Homo sapiens: one gene and its partners. The protein of the gene in region 3 purifies or fractionates together with the protein of the main gene of each other region. This does not show direct contact. Each region holds a gene or a part of one and is shown on either strand. Other genes may lie near its edges.

Region 1 (3,552 bases), on a different chromosome or scaffold from region 3:
ACTGCTGTAGTCCAGAGAGAGGAGAAGGGAGAAGTTAGTCACTGGGCGAGGCAATTGGAGCATGTACACTTAGGACTAGGACTTGTCCCATGGGTAGATGTGTGGCCAATGAAGAAGAGTGGGTAGAGATATTCCAGGCAGGTGAGCTTGTGGGGGAGAGGTGAGGTCATGTGGGAGAGAAGATCGAGTCTATGGAAGGAGATTTTAGAATCACTGAACTTCTTTTATTTTGGTGTCTCCTAGATAGTTTTGTGCCAGAATAATATCCATAATCAGGCCCATATGAACAGAGTGGTCACACACGAGCTTATTCATGCATTTGATCATTGTCGTGCCCATGTCGACTGGTTCACCAACATCAGACATTTGGCGTGCTCAGAGGTGAGTTTTATTGTATTTTTCTCCAGAATACTCTATGCTTGAATATTTTATTCAAGTGTAATTTATTTAAATGTATTCCTTTTCTTACTGTCATAGTTCTACCTTAGTCTTGAATTTCGGTTTATAACTAACATTGAATACCATTTTTGATATACAGTTAGAGAAATTTAAAGTGTATTTTTAGAATTCTCTTAACTATATCCTGTAAGTCCTAGTAATAGTGATGACTGACTTTAATAAGCTATTAATTTTTTCCTATGGAATATATTTTATAATGTATTCCATAGGAGACATTAATAATAAAAATAAAAATAAAAAAATAATTAAAATTTACTGAGGGCTGTGTTCCAAACACTGTTCTGTTTGCACAGATTCTTATTTAATCTTCACAATAACCTACTGAGATAGATATTATACTATTATTGTCCCTGTTTTACATATGTGGAAAGTGAGACAGTTGTTTAGATTCCAAAGTTAGTAAGTGGTAGAGGCAGGATTACAACTAGTGTTTTTAACTAGCTTGCCCAGCTGCCTTCCATAGAGCTCCTTGCTTGCCCTAGAGTAAAACATGCTCTTTTCAAAAATACAACATAAAAAGATATTTATTACTAAGCACGTTGGATTGCTCTTGGAATATGCTCCTAGAGAGAGCGTATTCTGCATATGCATATACTTGGATGTCATTAATTGAAGAGTTAATTAAAATAATCTAAATCTCAAGCCTATACTATATAACTTCGATTATTTCCCTTTCTCTTGAAATTAATATGTAGCCCCCTGCATCTAATTATAATTCCAATTATTTGGAGAATAGACTGAAACCTGAATTTTTAAATAGGTCTCTTTCTTGGGTACTGTGAGAATTAATGCCTTTTAGCTAGTTAAAGTGTGTTAAGTACTTTGAGCTCCTCAGAGGAATGAGGCCATAATATTGAAGAAGGAACAAGAAGTGGGCCATTCTGTTAGCAATGAATTAGCAAAAATGTGGTCAAGCTGCCTGTAGAATCTATGTGGGTAGTTCTAAGACTTTTTCATTCATTGAAGTATAGTAAATCTGAAAATATGTCCTAATTTCAGGCTGTCATGCTCATAGCGTGACCAGTTTGGAATGTTCTTGATTCTTTGTGTTTTGTATTGCTTCATTTTTCATAGGACAATCAAGTCCCTAGAGGAAGGTCATGAACTTATATAGGTTTGAGGGAAGCTCCAAGGGAGATTCGGGCAAGGGTTGGGAGGGGCATATTCTCAAAGTGTCTCAGATATTAATGCATTCAGTTTTAAGGTCACATTGAAACTCAGTTTATTTCAAGAATGCTTTCTTGAAGTACTTTTGGCAATTTCTACAAGTATTTGTATCTTGTAGAGTGTGTAGTTTAACTCTGAGGTCTAGCTCTCTGACTTTTGGTTCCAAAAGAAATTAGTTCTGTCAGTAAAGCTACGCATAAAGTTTAGAAAATTTCCTTTGGTAGGCGATTGAACTTTTCCCCATCTCTCCAGTGTATTTGGCATTGTCTAGCATAGCTCATAGATATTTGCTCTCGTTGTCAATAGAGTTTAAAAAGTCCTTTAAGAAGAAGTGTCACAAATACTCTTTTCTCAGACAAAGATGCTAATTTTATATTCTTTTCTAATTTTTAAAAATTGGTTGATATCATAAAGATATATAGAGCATGAGCGTTTATTTCTTTTTATTTGTCTTCTGTGTGATAGGTTCGAGCTGCTAACCTTAGTGGAGACTGCTCACTTGTCAATGAAATATTCAGGTTACATTTTGGATTAAAACAACACCACCAGGTAAAAACTAATATGAAATCACTTCCCCTCCAGAGTGTTACGAGTGGAAATAATGAATAAAGAAATGAAAAGTACATTCAGTATTTGAAATTTGAAAGAACTTCGTATGTGAAAAGAATACAAAGTATGTACCATTTAAACAAAGTAGATGGAATTTAGTTCTACTTTGTAATTATGGGCAAGCTATGTGACTCAATGAGTGTGTGAGATAGTCTAATAATGAAAAGAGGCCTGGTGCGGTGGCTTATGCCTCCCAGCAGTTTGGGAGGCCGAGGCGGGCGGATCACGAGGTCAGGAGATCGAGACCAGCGTGGCCAACATGGTGAAACCCCGTGTCTACTAAAAATACAAAAAAATTAGCTGGGCGTAGTGGAGCACACCTGTAGTCCCAACTACTATGGAGGCTGAGGCAGGAGAATCACTTGAATCTGGGAGATGGAGGTTGCAGTGAGCCGAGATCATGCCACTGCACTCCAGTCTGGGCCACAGAGTGAGACTCCATCTCAAAAAAAAAAAAAAAAAAAAAGGAGCTAAGATCTTGCATCTGGGATACTTTTCGATGGGGGTGGATAAGGAATGGAAGTGAAATCACAGCATGTCTTACTGTTATTCTAACAATTCTTGACTTCTATTTTGAATCTACCATAGCATTCTGGAGACAAAAGATGTAATCCCTTTCAGAACAGAGAGTGTGTTGCTGCACAAGTTATGGCTATGTGTCAGTGTACCTGTAAAGGCTATATAATGTGATAGAAAACCTTTGGCTTAGCACAGACTTGAGTATGATGAGCTTAGCTGAGAGGGATTTGTGTGAACAAAACAAAAACAAAAAACAAAAGAGAGCTATAAGGCAAGATTATCCTGGTAGAAAGGCTTTGAGATCTGTATTAGGTGGACGTGGGGAAAGAAAGTATAGGACTCATGGATTGATAATGAATGTGAGCAGTTCTGCCTGGGCCTGTGTCCACATTTAGGAGAAAGGCTGGTCAGTCATTTTCTACAGTAAGAGCCTGCTGAGTCAGTTTGTGAAGTATATGAGCATCACGATATCAGTTCCAACTAGATGAAAAAAGATAGGCTTAGGACAACAGGAAGGCCCTTGGTTTTCTGGAGAAGAGAGTAACTCAACTCTGGAGTGGGGGGTGGAAAGTCACAGTGAGCTACTCAGAAATTGTGAACTTAGTGAATGGGAGGGAGAAGAAAAGCCTTCTGCCTGGAAAGGGTGATTACTCTAGACAGTGAGGTGTTCAGCCTCTGCCAGGTCAGCTTAGTGATATGCCAGTGACTTGTCTTGTGCTGCATGTTTTCTGTGCCCTTGAGTCCCTGCTTCTCTGGTGAATTCTGTGTGTTCTGGCTGTCAGTGGAGAGGGTGGAAGC
Region 2 (3,552 bases), on a different chromosome or scaffold from region 3:
ACAGACCATCAACTCAATTTTCTATCACCACAGTTGTAACTCCAAAATCAACAAATATACAGCAGTAATTAAAAGCAGTGCAAATATCTTTGGAGGTTAGGATAAAATTATAATGCAAGAACATAAAACTGAGGAAACAAAAAAGGCAAGTACTTCAAGTACAAGGAACCAGTCGGCTTGAGGTCCATCTTAGTGTTTACTGGGGGCTTCTTTCCTGCTTCTACTTCTTTCTCTGAAATACATTGGCCAACATGGCACCTGATGTTGTCAACTGGCCCATTTTGTTCAAAAACTTGGTCTTTGTATCTTCACTCACTAAGCTTGCAGCAATTGACATTGAGCTAGGAAAGAAAATTTAAAATTCATGTAAAGCAATTAAAAAAATAAAAATTTTTCATTTATTTAGTAGCATATCATTAACGAACACACTCTGAATTGGCGTCACAAAAGGGAAACTAATATTTATGGAGGGTAGTTTGTATATGCCATACTAGGTTAGGAGCTTTCATGTTCATTATCTATAGTAAAGGAAGCAGTATGTGTAGTGGTTAGGAACAAGTCTGGGACTGGACTGAATCTTGGCTCTGTTTACCAGCTCGGGTAAATTATTTAATCTCATCTGTAAAACGAGGATGATTCTAGTATTTGCCTCCTAGGGTTATTAGGATTATATTAACACAACTGTAAAGTGCTCAGTATAGTGCTAGGCACATAATAGCATGATGTAATTGTTAGTAGTTATTCTTTATCACTTCATTTAATTCTTACAGCAATCCTGGAAGATAAATATTATCAGTATTTTCACAAATGAGTAAATTAAATTGCAATGAAGTTTTGTGCTGTGCTGATAATAATCCTATGGTATATTCCTTTTTAGGGGGATATTCCTTTTTTGGGGGATGTCCTGAATTGCCAGTTGCATTGATTTCAATCAACAGTTTCGAGTCCATTTCTTCTTTCTTTTTCACCAACCTGCTCTGTAGGGAATAAACACAATCTAAATGACCTCTAAAGATTGCTAATTTATCATAGTACTGAACAGAAACAGAATACTGATCAAGCACAATTTTTCAATGACCTGACAACTGTCCTGTAATAGACTTGGAATCTAGTTTATTGCCTTGTGCCTTTGGCCAACATGCTTTAGCTCTCTCTGACTCAGTTTCCTCATCTGTAAAACACAGCTTGCAATTTCTGTTGTAAAATATTCTGAGGATTAAGTAAGATAATGTGTTTGAACATGTCAAAGACAACGTGTGGCAAGCTGCAGGTGCTCAACATGTCTGTTGAATCTACTGCATGAGGTGTGTGCTGCCACGGAGCACACCTGGGTCTATGTAGTCTATAAGGGTGTGCACTGTGAATTACTCAAGTTAAAAACCAAACCAGAACTCCCACCTTGAAAAGCTTCTCCACATTGCTCTTCTGACAGTACAACAGTGGGTTCTCTTTCCTGCTGCTTCTCTTCCCACAAAGTAATCTTCCCTAAGGTTCAGTATTTGGCTCTTGATTCTTCAATTATAAAACTTACTCTCCAAGTTTCAAATTGAATCGCATCCCTTTTCCTGAGGGTCAGTCCCACATTACTATTATTTGCTAGATAAAGCCAACATCTCAAGCTTCTGTTCACGCCCTAACTTTAGAAATAACTCTCCATTTTAACTCCCCCCTCTTTTTGCCAGTGGTTCTACTATTTTCCTCTCTTTCTAACAGTGAATTTAATAGCTCCTTCTACTTCTATTTCAAACCAATCACAAGTCCTGTGACCTTATTCTTTGAAGCATCTCCTCTACTGTTTCTTTTTACTTCCATGGCTAATACTTCACAACTCAGTGATTCCAACAGTCTTCCATCTTTAATTACCAGATTAACTTCTAAAAGTCACTTCTTGATATCACATCTTAGCTCAAAAATCTTTAATGCTTACATACCACCTACAAGATGAAATGTGCTTTGCATTCAGGAAATGTAGCAATCTATTTCTTGTTTTTCCATACCACTGTCACTGACTGTCTCTTTGACCCCCTTCAGTCAGGTTTGTCCAGTCTATTGTTCAACCACTCTCAAATCTTTCTATCCACTGCCTACCCATCTTTCAAAGCCCAGCTGAAGTCCTATGGTGCCTTTCCTTAACATTCTAGCTTTTCAGTGCTCTTCCTTTCTTTAGAAAACTCAGTGTAAGTCAAAAGATAAGTATGATTTAAATTTACATCTAGAAAAAGGGGATGTATGGGTCAGACCATAGTTGAGATACCAAGTTTTAATGATATTCTAAGAGGAGGCCAACCATGATGTTAAGGAGTCTGGAAACTATAAGAGGTAAAAATGAAAGGAATGAAGAATATTTGGCTTGAAGAAGATTTAGGTGACTTAACCAATACCTGCATACATCATATGTGAAAAACTGGATATATAATGTATATCTGCAGGGGTGTATATATCTGCGTAGGTCTACTGATACACATCATAGTCACCTGGAAAACTTCTGAAAATGCAGATCCCTAGGCCTAATCCAGTACTTCTGATTCTTTCCATCTGAGGTAGGAGGCCCAGGTCTATACTACAAAGCTTTTCAGTTAAAAAAAAAAAATCATTGCATTACAGCAATTCCGCCCCCACCCCAAGACACAGTGTAAATTTTTATCAGTTTTATAAAGGGGTTTGTAACACTCTCCCACCCCTCTACCAGATGATAAAGACTTGTTTTAGAGGGCCTAGGCATTTTGGAAAGGGAGATTTTAATCCAGGAAAAGATAATTTTTTAAAAAGAGTTATTAAAATGAAATGGGCTACCTTGTAATGTGTATCCTCACTGGAAGTTTTCAAGCAAATCTCAGATCTTTTCTTTGCAACTAATATCCCTATCTTCTTTAAAACTATTCATGTCCTATATTACTTATCTCTTTTCTTCTCTTTAAAATCTCCATTTGGGCCAGGCACAGCGGCTCACAGCTGTAATCCCAGCACTTTGGGAGGTCAAGACGGGTAGATCACTTGAGGTCAGGAGTTTGAGACCAGCCTGGCCGACATGGTGAAACCCCCTCTCTAGTAAAAATACATTAATTAGCTGGGCATGATGGTGCACGCCTGTAATCCCAGCTACTCGGGAGGGAGGCTAAGGCAGGAGAATTGCTTAAACCTGGGAGGCGGAGGTTGCAGTGAGCCGAGATGGTGCCACTGCACTCCAGCCTGGGAGACAGAGTGAGACTCTATCTTGAAAAAAACAAAAACAAAAACAAAAATAAAATCTCCACTTGATTTCTAACACCATTCTGGTTTGCCTTCTATTTCTCAGTTAAGTTCTTCCATATGCATCTGAAATGTTGGTGTCTAATTCCATGCCTGGTCACCTTCTCCCCATCAGAGCCCCCTTTTCAAGTGATATCATTTATCTACCACTGCTCCAACCATAAGCCTTTAATTACCACCCATATGCTGCTAATGGTTCTTAAATCTCAATGAACTGCCTATAGTGTTTCTCTACCTGTGCCTCACATTTTAAATATTCCTCTTCAGAATAGTTCTTCCTATAGTTCCATTTTGTTGTATTTT
Region 3 (5,498 bases):
CAAACTAGTCCAAAGACAGGAGGCCCTCAGAGACAAAATATACTTTTTAGAAATCTAAAAAAAAATACCTATAGTTTGAATAGCACTTGTGACAGTCTTTTACCACAAAGAGACAACGAAGTAGGGAAAGTTAATCGTAATTACATGCTCATCCCCAAGCAGCATTTCCTTTGACTTCTCTGGATGACAACTGAAACTGAAGGCATGCCAGCAAAGAATCCGAGTGAGCTGGGCAAAATGCTCTCTACTTCAACAGTCTTTTGCTAATGTGAAAGAAAAAAAAAAAAACAAGATTACAAAAGCCAAAAGCTTTTTTTTTTCTTACCTCTTTTAACCTGAATTATGACTCTTACCTAGGGGAGTACCCAAGGCCAGGCTGAGATACACCTCAGAAAAACAGTTGATAAAGAGACATCAGGTACACTGGAAATTGAAGAGGCCTGGGCCAAGATCAGATAACCACTGTACATTTTTTAAAATAATATTTAAATATAAAATACACATTAATGAAATTACAACCTAATAAATTTATTCAATCTTTTATAGCCACATATTTTATAACAAAACTGTCTGATGGATGAGCAACTGCACTAATTTAGCTGACTTCTGAAAGACGCTGGCACACTTTAGAAAATGAATAAGGCAATAAGCATGTGAAGATATCAGTAAAGAGGAAGTTGGGTGGATAGGTCGCCCTATTTCTTCAATAGGACCCTCAGGAGTTCACCTCCTTAGGACAAAAACACCTCCCTAGGGTCCTGGAGGCAGACAAATCAATAAAAAGAAGAGATAACTGGAAAAAAGGTGTGTAGGGGGAGGGAGGGACATTTCCCTTACTATACTATTTACTCTACAGCCTTAGAGGTAGGCTATTACTAATGTCCAGGCTACAAAGGAATTGAAAACCTTTTTTAGTGTAATTCCACTTTAATGAGGGATGGGGAAGTAGAGTGCAACTGTCCACTGACTGATCTGATCTAAAAAAATGATAAATTTAAAAAGTGAAAAAAACTTTACCTGAAAGAAACTGGGAATAATTAGGGGCCAGGCACAGTGGCTCACGCCTGTAATCTCAGCACTTTGGGAAGCCAAGGCGGGTGGATTGCTTGAGGTCAGGAGTTCGAGACCAGCCTGGCCAACATGGTGAAACCCATCTCTACTAAAACACAAAAATTAGCTGGGCATGGTGGGGGGTGCCCCATAATTCCAGCTACTACGGAGGCTGAGGCAGAAGAATTGCTTGAACCCAAGAGGCGGAGGTTGCAGTGACCCGAGATCGCGCCACTGCACTCCAGCCTGAGCGACAGAGTGATACTCCATCTCAAAAAAAAAAAAAAGAAAAAAAAAACTGGGAATAACTAGTTTATTACAAAAATATTAGTTTGAACGATGACTTTCCTAAGGCACTGCAAAAAGTGTTTACATTTATTTTTCAAATAACATGATCTGCACAAAATTTCAGCTGCATTAATGTAACATTTTCTAAATTGTGCCCGTACTGAGAAGGAACCAGCTGCCAGCCAATTTCACTGCATGCCCACTGTGTTTCTACACTGGTCATTAACAACCAAGATTCTGGCTACCACTATTTCTTCTTCCTCACGTTTGCTTCAGGGCAGTTTTTTATTATCCTATGAATATTTGAATATTTTCTAACCTGTCCCTGATCCTAAATAAAACAAAGAACCTGTTCTAGAGGAGTGATATTCAAAGTATTAGACATATAAGACATTTAACATCTAGAAAACCAAATTATATTTTGCTCAATTCAATTCTAATCCAATTATGGGTAAAAATAAGTCACAAGACAAGTTTTATGTCTATCTTAGGAGATGAACTAGAATTACTTAATTCCAGCTGCCTTCTCAATAATCACACCAATGATAAAAACAGAAAGTAGAAAGCTAAATAATCAAAAGAATTTCAACTCAGTGCACACTTACAAGGTACCACACACGATGTTCTCTCCTTCAATCTGTTAAACATTCCCAAGTTTCAAAATCACAGAACTAGAATGAACGCATATCATACCACCCAGTTCAGCAACCAACAGTTTATTAAAGAAACACAGCCAAGGCACATTCAGAGTGCCATAGGAGATAAAACAGAAAGACACAGATTCTCACCATCAGGAAACTTACAATCTGGCTGAAAGAATGGTCAAAATAACACAACCTTTCTGAATTACTAACAGGTACAAAAAGCTATACGATAAATATGTCCATTGTATTCATATCCATTTCATGGATAATTTTTCTGTATTAGTACAGGCATATCATCTAAAGAAAACATAATACTTAGAAGAAACTAATTAGCTTACAAATTTACATTCTAAATGTTTCCAACAAACTGGATAGGGCCCAGGAATATGTACTGAGAAACTAGTTCTGTTCTGGTATTAACAAGAAGGGAGGGGTGGACAGGTTACTAAAGCTGCCAGGCCACAATGTCAACTACAACGTGGAAAAGACTAGCCAAAGAATGGCAAGTGTTTTTATTTCGTAAAAGCCAGTTTCAATTAACTGGTTAGTGACTACCTCAAGCACTCCGCTGAGACTGTTAAGATTCCTTTAAGTAAAAAGCTATGTCCTGTGTTCGTTGCCCTCAGAAGTTGGATGTATGTTTGAGATGGTGCTACTGACTTAACATAAGAGTGTTCCCCGGGTTGTTTTTCCAGTCTCACTTGTGATCAATGCCGGCAATTCAGCTCTCAACAGCTATAAAACACTACTGTGTAACTAAGTACTTCCCTGATTCTGAACAACAGATAATAACACCTAACACTTGATGTTTCTTATAAAGCTGGCACTGTTCTAACCACTTACCCCGTATTAACGCATATAATCCTCACAACAACCTCTCTGATACAGATTCTACTATCACCACCCCTGTTTTACAGAGGAAACAATGAGGCACTAGTTACCAGGTAGAAGAGCTTGCCCAAGGCTTTAAAGTGGGTGACACAACCAGAACCTGACCTTAAGCAGTCTGGCTCCAGAACTACTTTTTAACCATTCTGCTTACTGCTTCTTTGTCAACTGTACAGTGATCAAACCCAGACTTCAGTTATGTTAGTGCACTGTGTAAGCCAGGTGCCTGGGCTTCAGGAGAGTGTAAGTCAATGTTTTAGCTGCAGTCCTGAAATGTTTACTCCCTCCAAGGGGCACGGATTCTGGCGAATTGCACTCAAATTACCCATACCTTGGCCATCGGTACATTACCTCATTTGACATATATTTTAAATCAAAACAATCTCAAAAATCATCGTTCCACCACATAAAATAAACCCTCTGTCTAGAATGCTCAGGGAATGCAGGTTTTAGGGTTAAGACAATTCTCTCATTAACAGAACATTAGTCAGAAAATTAGAAGAGAGGTGGTGATTCCTAAAACGTAAGTCATGGAGAGATCAGCACTATGAAGAGAAAATCTGACAAGTGGTAATTTTAACGGGCTTTGCAACTGTTATTCTGAGCATCACCTCTCACAGTACAGGGGTGTAGAAGGCACATGGCACATGAGATTTAACTGAATGGTAAATACTAACCACCCTCACCGCCGCCACCCGCCCCCAGCACTAGTAGGAGGTTGATATTCTGAATAAATGCCACTTCCCAAGGGATTTACTGAATATGTCGTCTTATTAATCTTAAGAGAACATAAGCTTGGCAAAAAACAAACAAAAAAAAACAGACTTCAAGGAGTAACAGTACAAACTAATTTTTACATATGCTATACATATTACACTCCAATGTGTAGATTATCTTCAAGTATTTCCACTGCACCCTTTTACACATCACTGCACTTCAGATCACATACATTAAACCAACCGCTGGGCTTGTCTCCAAATTCAAAATACAGGTTATCAAATGAAATTCTGTATTTTTTGTATTTCCATCCCCAGTATCAACAATGTAACAAGAAATTTACACTCAAGCTTCTAAAGTAAAACATACAGACAATAGAACTACCTATAAAATAAAACTTAAATGGAATATTAACAGTCTGAAAGAACTCTTAGGAGGAAACCGTAAGTTAAAAGAAAAAGCATTCCGGTTGTTGAAAGAATGTTACTGACAGTGGTTAACAGGCTATGTTCCCCCAGCAACAAAGGGGTGGAGGACATGCACGCGCATTATATAATATGAATACACGATTGTTAGTCTGCATCTTTAAGCTTAATGTCTTTCTTATATTAAAGTTTTTAAAAGTTTTAATATATTCCTTCCAAATGAACCTCCTTGCACCCCACCTTGGAGGCCCTAATACTTACAAAATTCATGATTTCTAATCTCCTCTAGTCCCAGACTTAAAGGAACAAAATAAATCGTTTTTCCTAATACAGAATATTTTAAATGAACTACCATTAATAGGAATCATCATTTTTTTCACCAAAGGGCCAAATTCCCAGCTCTACATTTCCCATTCCTAAACTTTGTTTGCAATGAGGACTCATATAAATATTTGGGTTGTGTGCTCCTTTTTAAAGCAAGAAGCAATGACACCAGGTGTAAAGGCAGTGGTGTCATATAATCAAGACAATGAGACAGGTATTTACGGTTGGCTATTTATTAAACAGCTCTTTCGAGACTTAACCCAATGAGACCTATTAATTCCACCCATATGGTGCTTACCCTCCTCTGACTCCTGAAACTTCTTGTGTATGCATGAAAAGCCAAGGGCCATGAGAAACAGAGCAAGTCCCTTCTGTGTACTCATAACCAAATTTTTATGACGCACAAATTAAGCTCACTGCTTGAAACTTATAGACCACGTAACAGAAACCACAAAAAGGAAACTAAGTCCAGTAAGAGTAGTAAATATTTTTGTTACAATATTTTTTATTGGGTTACCCCTAGCTGCAAATTTCTTCCCCAGTTTTAGCTCTCTCCAGCGCAAATTTATTCTCAGACAGCAGGTCACGAGGCTCCGTCTTTAAACCCGCCTCAGTGCTATTGGCCACTGCCTAAGAGTGCTCTTCCACTTCACCCACTGATAACCTGTATCAAAACAACCCCAGCTGGGTCCCCTTCAGCCTTCTGAAGCAACCTCTCTAGAGCGCTCTTTGGCCTTTTATAGTGGAGGCATGTGATGAGAGTATTTGCACCAGCTGTTTCTAATTACCTCTCAAGCTGGGGCGAATGACTCAGCAACCCAACTTTTTAGAGAGTCATCCTACCTTGTTAACCAACCAACATACCGAACAACAGTAAACCACTTGACAGAAACATAGGTTAAACAACAATACAAGAATCACTACGCCAAAGTCACCCTACTCCAAGCTGACTCACCGGGAGCCTTTCTTCCCTAAGCTTCTTCAAGATGTCCAAAGGCAGAAGTGGCAAGTGCCTTCAAGCCCAGCCCAGCCCTTGCACCACTACCCAAAGACCAGGAAGAAGCAAGCCGACCTCTTCCCATTTCTCTGCTTGACTATGTGAAGCGCTCAAGTGCTCTGCCACTAACACATCTGGGATTTCCACCCTTTATCCTTCTGAACT
Region 4 (3,552 bases), on a different chromosome or scaffold from region 3:
CACCCAGGTCTGCCTGACTGAAGCTGTGCTCTTTCCCACTTACCACTCTGATGGGTGAGATCTGAGCAGATGTCAGAGGTGGGGTGGAGGGGAGTAACAGCTGGTCCTGGAGAAGAACTGGGGAATATGTTAGACAGGTGGGTTATAAGTGGCCCTTGGAGGGGTTCTCACCTGTGCATCAGGCCCTGGCAGCGGCTGTCCAAAGTCCTGCCCATTGGCAAAGGCCTCCAGTACCGACAGGAGGTCCCTGTTGCAAATGGCTGTCCAGAGTCGCTGAGGCTCAGGTGTGCACCGGCGTGCAAACCTATGCTCCACATACTTGGCCATAATGTAGTCCCTGCGGGTGCCCCTACCAAAAACAACCACAGGATCTCAGAGCATGGACCGTGTCTGCCCAGCTGATCCCTGGGGCCCTCCCACAGGAGATACAGCTCTCTTTTTCTCCAGAACCATGTCCTGAAGACGTCTAGATCTGAGGCTCCCCTCTCCCCAGGCTTTTTTTTTAGACAGTCTCACTCTATTGCCCAGGAGGGAGTGCAGTGGCGCAATCTCGTTTCACTACAACCTCTGCTTCCAGGGTTCAAGCAATTCTAGTGCCTCAACCTCCTGAGTAGCTGGAATTACAGGCGTGTGCCACCACGCCCAGCTAATTCTTGTATTTTGAGTACAGGCGGGGTTTTGCCATCTTAGCCGGGCTGGTCTCAAATTCCTGACCTCAAGTGATCCGCCCGCCTTGGCCTCCCAAAGTGCTGGGATTACAGGCGTGAGCCACTGCGCCCAGCCTCCCCAGACTTCTGATCCAAGACTTTTCTACGACCCTGGACACTGCGGAGGCAGAATCCCCTAGGCAGGGTGCCCCTCTCTCTGAGAATCCCCTTACATGTCACTCTCAGCTGAGGGTTTAGGGCCGCCGTGTGAGGGTAGCTGGGCCTCCATGACCTCATTGAAGCTCGTGTTTCCCATGTTCAAGGCCAGCTGGAGTCGTAGGAAAATAGACGTGGGGCGGAGTAAGACCGGGCGGTTAAGCCTGCATAGGGTGGAGCTCCAAGCCCCCAGAGTCCCGCCCCTCGGCCGCCCTCCCGGTTCAGGCCCCGCCCCTGACCACCCGCTACCTGGCTTGTCCCAGCCCACCTCGGCCAGGTCCCACCCACAACCTGCAAGCCCCGCCCCCGGATGAAACTACACCCCTAACTCCGCTTCTGGCCCCTTCCAGGCCCCGCCCCGCCCTCACCAACAACTCGGAGGGGCCCAGCAGGTCCAAGGTGAGTGACTGCATGCGCGAAAAGCGCACGCCCAGTTCGCGGTGGACGCCCGAGCACTGGATGCAGGTGAGCACGCCCAGGTTGGTGCTGAGCCACGTGGGGTCTGCAGAGGAAAGCAGCTGGAGCCTGGAGGTGCAGCCCCTCCCCTCCACTTAAGCCTCCCTCCTGCCCCGGCCCCGGGGACCGACCTGCAGCCCCGCAGTCGCAGCACTGGCTATTCCCAGGCCTGCTCTTCACCTCCGCGATGAGCAGCTTTGTGAGGTCGTGCGGCTCCCCATCATGGCCGGCGGACCCCCAGGACCCCGGGCCAGCGCTGGGCTCCCCGAGGAAGGCGCTGCTCAGGGCTTCGTCCTTGCTGTTCTGCAACACTGACACCCACCTGCGGAGATTGAACGGGGTGGGATGGGGATGTCAAGTGGGAAGAGATAGGGCCGCCGGCCCCCACCCACAAGGCTGGCCGGGCTGGCCGAGGGGGCACTCACGCCTCACACTCGTGCTCGTCCTCTGCCTGAAAGTGGTACGTCCGGTTGTCTGTCGGGAGAGAAGGGGGCTTCTGACCCACAGAAATGCTGCTGGCCTTCCCGGAGCCCAGGGAGCCCCCACCAAAGCCGCTGGGGCCACATGGAGATGTGTCCCTGACAAGTCGGACTCTCAAGCTAGGAGTGGGAAGGGAGTGGAATGACAGTGGCCAGCACCAGGGGCAGTTTCTCAGAACTGGCCTCCGAAGTAGGATCCCAACAAAGCTCCCTCTGCGTGAAGCCCTGGTTCCAGGCTCAGACGAGGTCTCAAAGGGCTTGGAACCCCAGAGAACCCAGCTCTGAGGCAGGGCATCCTCTGAACCAACTGTCACCACCCCACTGGGCCCTTCCTGGTCTCCTCCTGGGCGACCAGGCCTCCTGTCTGGTCTCCCTGCTTCCCATTTCCCCTTTCCCCTAGCCTGTACCAGCTCCCAACTGTTGTGCCCAAGGCTCTGCTCTAATTACACCACTGCCCTGCCCCAAGATCTCCCATGGCTCTCTATTGCCAGGAAATAAGGTCCAAACTTTTAAGAGGGATTTCCAGGCCTCATCTCTCACTCTGCTACATGAACCCTCCACTCTGGCCAAACCGGCCAGACCCACTCTCCTGCTTCCATGCCTTTCATCATGCTAATCCTGTCTCCTCAAAAGCCCCCACCCCACAAACTCTTCATTCTACATGTCCTTCAAGGCTAAACTCAAATACTGTCTCCTCCAGGAGCCTTTCCTGATTCCCCACAGCAGTGCAGGCCTTCCTGCTCCCTAATCTTCTATGGGGCTATATCTGCACCCATCTTCTGGACAGCCCCCTCATCTTACAGTCCTGGGTACCCACCCCACACCCCTGCCAGAGAGTTTCCTGAGGACAAGATCTAGGTCTTTCTCAGCCTGTGTCTGCTCTCACACAAAGCCTGCACCAAAGGCTCTGAAGAACGAAAAGTAGAAAATGTAAAGAAACAATAATTTCATCTCCTTCAAGTCTGGGTATTTGGGAAAAAAAGGTAAAATTTTAAAAAAAGAAATAATTTCAAAACCCAGATGACCCAAATCCACTCAAATATGCTCTGTATAAATAGCCACATTTATTATGTAAAGTGGGTGCATTTTGACATTTAATGTGATGTGGGTATCCTAGACCTAAGGATTCTTATGTCTGCAGTAGCAGCAATTCGACACCATGTGTGGAACTGGACACAGACCCCTCACTGAAGCCCCCCGGGAGCTGACAGGTGTCTTAGAGAAGCCCTGAGCAGCTGTGGGTGGGGGAGAGGCACAGGGACCACTCACGGGTCACCAGGTCGAAGCACTTTTTCTCCTCAGGGTTTGGCCTCACTTGGCACGTCAGCAGGGTCAGCTTCACCGGGGGCCGGTTTATCTGTGGGAATTTAGGGGCGGAGGATGTATGCATTACCTCTGGCCCTCCACATTCTTTAGGCCTCCATTTCCCACTCTGTTAAATGGGCATAATCATCCTGTTCCATTTGTGTTTCTCCTCACCCAGCAGCACCTCAAGGATGTGAAGTGTAGACTAAGACTAGATTGGGGCCTTCAGGTCCCATCTGTCCTCCCAAACGGGTCTCCAGCTCCCTGGACCTAGGTTTGGGGGCCAGTCTTAGAGGGAGGGCTTGACATTATTTGCTCAGAACACCAGAAGAAGAGGGTCCATCGTGCCCTGAGACTCCCACCACCTCTAGGCCTCACCGTGCTGTGTGAGATGGTCAGGCAGCCATACTTGACTCCACACTTCCTTTTCTGCCAGACTCTTCGAATTC

What was found. Proteins that work in one complex are often made in the same cells at the same time.
Region 1: the proteins of BACH1 (region 3) and ATP23 purify together in Homo sapiens (affinity purification with mass spectrometry; 2 studies listed by BioGRID and IntAct, with this or other methods). This does not show direct contact.
Region 2: the proteins of BACH1 (region 3) and RELCH purify together in Homo sapiens (affinity purification with mass spectrometry; 2 studies listed by BioGRID and IntAct, with this or other methods). This does not show direct contact.
Region 4: the proteins of BACH1 (region 3) and ASAP3 purify together in Homo sapiens (affinity purification with mass spectrometry; 2 studies listed by BioGRID and IntAct, with this or other methods). This does not show direct contact.

Annotation. Positions count from the first base shown.
Region 1 is NC_000012.12:57,951,515-57,955,066, forward strand, and holds part of ATP23 (mitochondrial inner membrane protease ATP23 homolog), read left to right. Parts: intron 1-243; coding exon 244-381; intron 382-2,091; coding exon 2,092-2,175; intron 2,176-3,552.
Region 2 is NC_000018.10:62,302,203-62,305,754, reverse strand, and holds part of RELCH (RAB11-binding protein RELCH), read right to left. Parts: intron 342-3,552; coding exon 221-341; 3' UTR 1-220. UniProt on the Homo sapiens protein: Regulates intracellular cholesterol distribution from recycling endosomes to the trans-Golgi network through interactions with RAB11 and OSBP.
Region 3 is NC_000021.9:29,299,969-29,305,466, reverse strand, and holds part of BACH1 (transcription regulator protein BACH1), read right to left. Parts: intron 264-5,498; exon of another isoform or gene 145-263; intron 1-144. UniProt on the Homo sapiens protein: Transcriptional regulator that acts as a repressor or activator, depending on the context. Binds to NF-E2 DNA binding sites. Plays important roles in coordinating transcription activation and repression by MAFK.
Region 4 is NC_000001.11:23,435,680-23,439,231, forward strand, and holds part of ASAP3 (arf-GAP with SH3 domain, ANK repeat and PH domain-containing protein 3), read right to left. Parts: intron 3,552-3,552; coding exon 3,482-3,551; intron 3,156-3,481; coding exon 3,068-3,155; intron 1,794-3,067; coding exon 1,745-1,793; intron 1,642-1,744; coding exon 1,451-1,641; intron 1,366-1,450; coding exon 1,232-1,365; intron 976-1,231; coding exon 881-975; intron 350-880; coding exon 172-349; intron 1-171. UniProt on the Homo sapiens protein: Promotes cell proliferation.